Linked DNA regions of Homo sapiens: region 1 is linked to region 2. The links come from fine-mapping of genetic effects on gene expression. A gene starts in region 2. The other region holds a variant in brackets. All regions are shown on one strand. Distances are between the middles of the regions. Region 1 holds the start of LOC107986057 (a long non-coding RNA gene). Region 2 holds the start of CHL1-AS2 (CHL1 antisense RNA 2).

Region 1 (4,398 bases), 75 kb after region 2:
AGTAGCCATCTTGAAATTCAGAGGAGCTAAGTCTTAGGAAAAGGCCAAGAGAAAAGTGGAGGCATCATTTCTGGCAGCACTAAGCTATTGAACTGGTCCTTAATTACTATATCTCCAATTCTTACATAAGAAAAAAAAAATCTGTTTAACTAAGTCAGTGTAGTTTGACTTTTGTGTTACTTGCAGCTAAATGCATTTCAAATTCCTTCCTCCAATCTCATATAGCAAGTTTTTTTTGCATTATTATCTTAGCTACATTGCATTACATAGTAATTCTTTTAAAAATATAATTACCTTCATATGTATAAAAATAACTTCATTACCTTTGTATCCCCATCTCACAGGTACTTTGTACACGGTAGACAAAATAAAAGTTCAATAATGTACAATGGCTGAAAACGTTTCCTATTCCAAAGGATACCTAATTTGAATAGAATGAACTTACTACAAATAAGAACACTTCCTGATCTTGTATGGGTTTCCCATAGCAACCAACTCAGTGACATCACAGAAACTCAGTAAATATTTCAGTATGAGAAAGAGGTATGGGAACAATTTGCAAGGACTGAAAGGATCATTTCATTAATGCTAACCATCTCTCCACTTTATAAATAATTCGAACAAATTCAGATCTAATATATGTACATCTTTTAAAACCTTGGATCGTTTATGGATTTAAAAGCATTATACTGCAATAGGGAAGCTTTAACATCTCTACAAGATGACAAAAAGAATAAACAGTTTTACACCAGCTGCCTTGACAACTACTTTCTCTGAAAAGATTATTTTAGACCCCCAGACAAAATATTAAGCTTTAATCAGTGCTGGCCTAACACTGAATATTTTGTTGTTTTGTTTCCTCCATCTGTTTGTTATTATATGCACTATATTTTGCTGAAATTGAGACTATAAAACGACAAAAAGAAAATCTTTGTTTTTGTGGTTAAAGAATTCTTCAAAAAAATGTCTTACAGTTCAAAATGACAATTCACTATACAGGAAGGACTTACTTGCCCTAGTAAAGCCAATTTTTAGACATGACTCTAATCTTTCTTTCATCTCATCTTGCCATTTCTGAAACATGCCTGGAATAAAACTGAAAATGTGATTCCTCAGGGCTCAGATCAAGAGCCTAAGAGCAAATACTTTGTGATTCTACCTCAGGAGGAACTAATACACACTCGTGTTGTGTGTCTATGAAAATTATTGCAAGGAATCTATCACCACGACATTTTCCTTTGGAAATAAATCCAAACTCCTAGGTGTATATTTCCACATGATAGTTTTTTCTTTCTTTGATTTCAAAAGTAATACATTTTATTATGAAAAAGTAGTTAACATAATTATGCACAACTAACAACAAAATATCCCTATAACATTGCCTCCAAAGGATGGCCACAATTAGCATTTCAGTGTATTTCCTTATAGTATTTTTTCTCTGCATACATAATAATATATAGATTTTTCATCTTGTAATACAAAAGTGTTATCCAAATAGTATTCTATTAGATCTACTGTTTAATAAGCTACTTTTTAAACCTAACCATGTGTTGTGAACATTTTTCATGATATGACATATTTTTGCAAGATAATTATAGTATCTGCATAGCAGTCTGCTGTTTAGCTGTACCATAAATAATTTCATCTGTTAGATATATAGGTTACTTCAATTCTTGTTGCCAGGTTGGGCATAGTGAATATATGTTGCTTTTATTTTCTCCTCATCATCATTCCTTTTGGGGGTACTAACTACTCCCTTGCTTCTGAAGAGATATCAATCACAGTCCATTGGCCACTTCTGGCTACAAAGTCTTTGGCTTAGCTAATATCTCATCCCCTGGGAAAAGTGATTGGTCTAAAGTTAAGAAGATAACTCACAGAGGTGAAATTAGCATCTTTCCTGAGATTGATATGTAGATGATGGCAGCAGGTGAGAGGGAATACACTTTTTTCTTAATGTTGTATTCTAATTTGTGATGATTTGAGCCAGGAGTTCTCAGAAGCTTTCTTCCAGATTTTCTTAAAAGAAATGTACTAATAGTTGGGGAAAATAAGGATAAGACACTGTGGAGAGAAAGGCTGAGAAGTTTAGGAAGAGAAAAAGAATGCTGATTTTCTGGATCAAGCTGTGCCTGAAGTTCTGTGTACTGAATTTCTCAGTTCCGTTCGCCAATATACTCTTTGATTTTTTGTTGTCATTTTGTTGCTTAAAGTAGTCTGGTCGATACTTCTGATAATATCTAAGTAGCAAAATACATTAATCTGCTAGTTTTTCAAGAACAAAAAAGATTGTTATCTCTTTTTTTGGCATTGTTGTTTTGATGCACAATTAGTAACTACAATTTTTGACACTATGATGTTCTGAATTAAACCTGGGAAATACCTAGTTCATGAGTTGTATTTTTCTTATATTTACTTATTAAAATGGAAAAGGTTTTACGCCTACAGACCGTCATTTTAAGAGCCTGTTTAGTTCCTTAGGATGAGCCCAGCACATGGCTAGTGTACAATAGAAATGTAATGAGTTGATGAACAAATGATTGAATTTGCTGCATGAGGATCCCCAAGAGTTTCTTCTTGAAGGTTCATTGATTCCCTCAAGTTATGATCAA[A/G]TACTATATCAAACATTGTGAAATACACACTGTTCTCTTTGGTGCTTCAATTTTATGTAGCAGTAAGAAACTTCATTGTATTCATTGCAATTTTTCAACATGAAATGTAAGCTGAGCTTCAGACACATGAATTTTGCTCCCAAGGAAAGTGCTATAAAGTCCCACTGAGATTTGAACACAGACGATGAAACTGCTTGCTAGGTTTTTGATTTGGAATTTCAGCTATCTATGGAAGTCCTGACAGTTTGATGAAAGCACAGTTTGAAAGAGTTAGAAAGATTTTCAGCATCTTTTTTGACCGAAGGGATGATATTTAACATCTAAAGGTGGCACTTCTGGCCCCCCAAAAAAGGCATGTTCTATTTTGCTTCTCTATTGACAAGCAGTGCTTGTCATATTTTTTTCTTTTCTCCATCATACTGGGAACTCTCATGAGAGTGTTCAGCTTCTGGCTGAGTTTAGTATGAGGCAAAGAAGAAAAAAAGCACAAAATATTTAGTTTTAGTCATAATGTTTAGGTTTATTGCAACATCAGAATCGACAGAGTCACAACAAGTAATTGAGGCAGGTGTCAAAAACGGAGAGTAAACAAATGGCCAAAACAAGGAAGCTGGCAGGTATAATAAACTATTATAATGGACTATTCTACCTTTTTTTTTGCACACTGACCAACATATCTGTCAACTAAACCCATATTTTATTCCTTGCAATTAGTTTATTTGGGTATATTTCTCTCTTTCTGATGTTCTTCCTTTTTTCTGATGTTCCACTATCAGTTAGTTACACTGAGTTAAATATGCCTTTGTGATAACACCCCACTTGCAGGCTGCTATATGCGTAGGCCTGGAGAGTGCCTATGCTAAAAAGAAAACCCAACTCTAAAAAAGCTCCATTCAGCAAAGGCCAAGCAGGTGTCTACAACCTCAGAGGAAGATCATCCTTCAGCAGGGTGTGTTGTCTCCAATGGCATTGGCTAAGTGGGAACCACGGAATTCTTCTTTCTGGCAAGGGCCTTCTTCATCCCTTTTCCCCCTCAATACTAGAAGCCTCTTTATTCCATCTGCCTTGAGACCACTGGAGCTAGTCATCATGCCCCTTTCCCTGTTTAGGCTGAATGTCACAAGGTGTCCAGGTGCTTCATATTGTTGCTCATCCTCCAGATCCCCACCCCTAATTCCCATTGCCTTTTCTGACCCTTATCTCTCCCTCCCCATCTTTAATAACCTTTCATGGGGCCATATGGAGCTCTATGTCAATTCTCAGTCAACTGATATTCTCAACCTCATCAGCAAACATTCACTTCTTGCTCACACAAAATCCTTTCTCCTCTAATGGCAAATCTTTCTCTGCAGCACTCTTAGTGAGTGGTTCTTTTCTCTCCTATGGTATCATGGCATCTGGTGGCAGGACAGATGTCCTATCTCTCTCCACTGACACTTCTAGACCATTCCTGTCCAAAGCATAAACAGTCAGCATTGAATCCCATCTCATTTGACTACATATCACCCAACATTCTTCCTTATTTTTCATCCATTCTCAGGTCATTATCTCTCTTTCTTTTTTTTTTTTTTTTTTTTTTTTTTTGAGAGGGAGTCTCACTCTGTCCCCCAGGCTGGAGTGCAGTGGCACAATCTTGGCTCACTGCAACCTCCGCCTTCCGGGTTCATGCCATTCTCCTGCCTCAGCCTCCCAAGTAGCTGGGACTACAGGCTACCGCCACCACGCCTGGCTAATTTTATATATTTTTAATAGAGGTGAGGTTTCACCATGCTAGCCAGGATGGTTC
Region 2 (4,398 bases):
GCAGATAGGTTGGAGGACCTATATAACCATGAGGAATCAATAAATATCTATAGCCGTTTCTTTGAAGAAAAGGATCCGTAAGTCTACATGCAACAGATAACAATCTGGGAAACATATATTCATCATCATAGTCTTGTGCTGCAGTGAAGTGGGTACAAACATACCCTGAAAGAGATTTTAATGAGTTGCCATAGCCAGTACTCACACCCATCCAGTAATAACTATTTGTCTCCATTGATTTGCTCACAATATTCAGGAGCTTGCAAGGAATGATTATACACTACGTTCTGCCATTACTAAAGGTAAATCCACTGCAGCACTTAAGGCCATAAAATGGAAAGCCAGGGTATACATAGGCTCTGTAACCACGTTAAATTATGAAAGCCAAATGGTGGTCCCTCACAAAGAGACTGAAATTAAGACAAACCCAACTGCAACATCTGCAGGTGAAAGAGAAAACACAAAGATTTACAAAAGAAAAACTCTGGGATAAACTTTTTATTTTCTTGTCACCAAAAGTTTCCCCAAAGAGCTTCCTAAGCTTCTCTCTCCATCAATATACTGAAAAGCCAACTTCATCGGCAGTTGATCAGTTTCTCTCTTCCAATCTGCTGCAAGGCAGAGCTTCGTAGGAGTTGGACTGTGCAGTACAAATATTCATATTTTAATTAAGATTATTCTCCAAAATTAGAAAACGCAGAATTTTTACTTCAATGAAAATGCAGAGAAATGAAAATGCACCATATGTAATTAAACTGAGGATTAACTAACAGTAATGGCATCAACGACAATAACTTTTGAGTGCTTATTATGCATCAAATATGCATATGGTGTTAAATTTAAAAATCTATGGTGTTAAATTACTTGTATCATCTCATTCCAGTCTTGCAACAACCCAGTATAGAGGGTATCGATAATCTCCGTATTATTGAGAAAGGGAAACTGAGGCACGTAGTTAAATGCCTAGTCCAGAGTGACGCATCACAGTGATGGTGGAGCTGGAATTCGAAGCCACGTGGGCGTCCCGGGAGCCTCCGCCTAGAGCGAGCCCGGGGGGCCCACCAGTTACCATCGCCACGCGCACGCGCAAATCTCCCCGCGCACGGCGCGTTCCCGCGGGAGCGCGCCCTCGCGCACGCGCCTGGCAGGGCAGCCGCTCGCCGGCCCTGGGGCTGCTCCGCGGCTCCCACGAGCGGGACTGGACGCCGGCGCCCTTCGAGGAGGGGCTGAACCTGGGGCGCCCTCTCTGCCGGGCCACCCAGCCCTGCCGACGCACACCTGCCCTCCGCCGCCGGCCTCCCACCCCTTCCCCGCCCGCCTTCCCGCCCAGCAGCCCAAACGCCCACCCTGCGCTCCACCCTGCTGGCCGTCTGGGGCGGGGGTACCTGGGCCCGCGCGGCTGCTGCTCCTCCGGCCCGTGGTTTTTCGCAGGAGTTCCCCGGCCCTGCCCCTGGCTGAGACACTGTGGCTCGCAGCGAGCCCGGAGAGTGGGAACGGAGGGGCTGGCTTTCCCCAGCCTCCCGGCTCCAATCCCTGCTCCCCAAATTAATCACTTTCTCCGTGCTGCCTCCCCACGCACACTCACACTCCAAAAAAAAAAAAAAAGCGAGAGAAAGAGAGAGGCACAAAGAGGAAGAAGGGACCATCCGCGACCGGCATCTCCAGCCCCCCGGGCTCCGCTACCAGGAGCCATGGCAACCACGGCCCCCGGCGCGCCCTCTCGCCCCTCGGCGGTCTGGGGAGGTGGAGCTCTAGCCCCTCTCTGGGTTTTCGTGCTCCCCAACCCCACAACCCCACGGTCCATGGATTCCCCGCTCCAGGCTGGCGGCATTTTCGGAACCCCCCCCGGGCTGGGATCTAGAATCCTCTCCTGAGAGGAGGAGCCACACAGGGGCAGTGGACTGGGGGGGTCTGAGCCCCACACACCAGGCGGTGTCCAGGGGAGCGAGGGGCGCGGTGGGAGACAGAGGCCGGGACTGACCCCCAGACCAGCTAGACCTCGGAGCCCCACCCGAGAGAGGGCGGAGATCTACGGGGGGGTCTGGAATCCTCCTCAGAGAGCAGCGAGGGATGGGGTGGCGGAGGCTGGAAGCGGGAGGGCCAACCTACCGGCGGCCGGCGGGCGTGAGTGGGACCCGGCGGATTCGGGCGCCCGGTGTGCTCCGTCGACTGACCCCGAGCTGTCCGAATCCGGCCTCGGCCACCGGGGGCGGGGCGTGAAAAGGGGGCGTCTCCTCCCGGGTGCAGGCTGAGGGGCCCGGACCACCCCCACTGCGGACGAGGGACCCTGACCGCGCCCCGCTTCCTTTCCATAACGAGTGGACCCCTCCCGGAGCACCTTCAGCCCTTCCTCCACGGGAGACCCCCCCAGCGCCGGCACGAGAGATGCCAGCGGACCCCCACCCCTGACACACCTGCGCCGCCTCCGAAACGCGATCTGTCCGGCGCCTCCCCTCGGGCGCCTTCTCCCCCGAGCCGGCCGGGAGCCGGGACGGGGGCGCGCAGGGTCCGGTAAGCTCTGGGCGGATCCAGGGAGGGTCTCGCCGGCCGCTGCCCGCTGGTCCGCACCCGGGGCTGTCCGCGGAGGTCCCGCCCGTCCCCTCCCGCCGCTGGCTCTCTGGCCGCGGGAAGGCTGGAGCCGTTCTGGCTGGCACCGGGGTCTACGCCCTCCTGCCGGAGGCTGGCTCTCGCCTCTGCTCCCTTCCTGGGTTCTGCGCCGCCACCCCTCACCCACGCCGCTTATCTTCCCTCCCTTTGCACGCTCCCGCGGGACAGGGAGAGTTACAGGCTTCAGACTTTATCTCGTTGTGGAAAGCAAGAGACCAAGCCAAAAACTTTGGTCGTGCTTTTCAACATCTCCGGTCAAAAGAGGTAGGATCCCTGCTCGTTTATCTGCAAAAGCGACATTTAAAAGAAACGCCCCCCACCCCCTCCCCGATGGTTTCACTCGGTTCATGTTGCACACACAGGTCGCCAATCTGCTTTTCTCCCATTGCTGCGTCTTAGAGGGGTGTGGTGCCATGTACGTATTAAAAATTGTCTTCTTGCTTTCCTTCATTTAAGGGCGTGGTGGGGCTTGCTATTGAATTTACAAAATATGCTACGACCATCCGCTGTCAAATTGTGCATGCTTAAATTTACAGATCTTCTACTATCTCACAATTTTTGCCCTAATACAGAGTCTATAATGTTACCACATCGTTTCGTAACGTTTTTCCTACTTATCCTTTATTAATTCACTATTGGAGAGGAAAGCCTTCTGTACTCATATTCAGTGCAAAAAGCCAGTTCTGATGCCTTATGAATCCACAAACACATAAAAATATTTTAGGATTCCAAAATTCATATGGAAAAATTATAATTTTTAGCACTACATTTGATTTATATGCCACTTTATTTTTTTTCCATTATGGTGGTATTTTCCAAAATTTTTACAGGATACCACTTTTGAAAATCCTGTTGAATGCAAGTCCTCTTTGTTGGTAAGAGAATTATTGACTTCTAATTTTTACTCCACTAAGGCTGTGAGATTGACCTTACAGCCTCGTTTTGTTTTCATCTAGCTCATTGAACAATGAGGATATTTAGCTCCCCTCAGAGCTACCCTCAGAGTTGGATGAGCTATCCTCAGAGTTGGATGCCACCACCGGGAGCAGCAAAAGCGAAGGCAACTCATGATTCTGCCTCAGAAGCAATCGAATAAAATATTTTGAAAATGAATGAATGGACTTTTAAATTTTAATCATCGCTAACCTTGGGGCCTCGATTCTGTCAATTTGTGTGTGGGCACAGTTCTTACCAACTGCCTTGGCAAATTGTGAATGCAAGTGAGGGCAGGATTTGTCCTAAGTTTAAATTGTACTGCTGGAGTGATTTCTTTTGCCTGAGGCATCATTATTCACGTGGCATGTTTTCTAAAGTAGAAACAAAGATAGAATATTAAATAAAATTCCAACAGGGGGAAATACTCTGCCTGTAGAAAAACATTTCCAAGGTCAAGGAACCACAAGAGAACAACAAAGCGAAGTTGGTCTCAGGAGTTTACCATCTTCTGGGTGAACAAACATCAGCTGAGCAAGGGACTCGGAACTCCATTTTGGCCAGATGAACAGAGTACTCTTAAATATATAGCTCCTTCTTTCTTGGTGATTTGTTTCTTGACAATAGAATCATTATTTACAAAACAAATATTTATTGAGCAGCTACTATTTAATCAATCACTGGTCTGGGTGCTGGGCTCAGTAGGAAACTCAATAGGCATGGCCAGTAGCTTTTTAAAAAATCAAATACCCTCCAAATATATTAGACAGTACCAAGCCACAATACCCAAAACAAGAAGATGGCCAGTTCTTAACTATGAGTTTTTAACTGAAAGGGAGATAACATTCTTCTAAGCTT

The links. PIP is the estimated chance that this variant, and not a neighbour inherited with it, causes the effect. A credible set is the group of variants that fine-mapping cannot tell apart.
Region 1: its variant is the best candidate, but not a certain one, in a credible set for the expression of CHL1-AS2 in left ventricle (GTEx, PIP 0.88).

The regions. Positions count from the first base shown.
Region 1 is chr3:119,640-124,037 of GRCh38, reverse strand. It overlaps LOC107986057 (a long non-coding RNA gene), which reads right to left and starts at 446. Exons shown (of 3, transcript XR_001740582.2): 1 at 324-446. The variant A/G (reference allele first, on the strand shown) is at 2,613.
Region 2 is chr3:195,080-199,477 of GRCh38, reverse strand. It overlaps CHL1-AS2 (CHL1 antisense RNA 2), which reads left to right and starts at 2,137. Exons shown (of 4, transcript NR_144487.1): 1 at 2,137-2,511; 2 at 2,970-3,022; 3 at 3,438-3,482; 4 at 3,564-3,720. CHL1 (cell adhesion molecule L1 like) reads right to left here and starts at 2,715. Exons shown (of 28, transcript NM_006614.4): 1 at 2,415-2,715.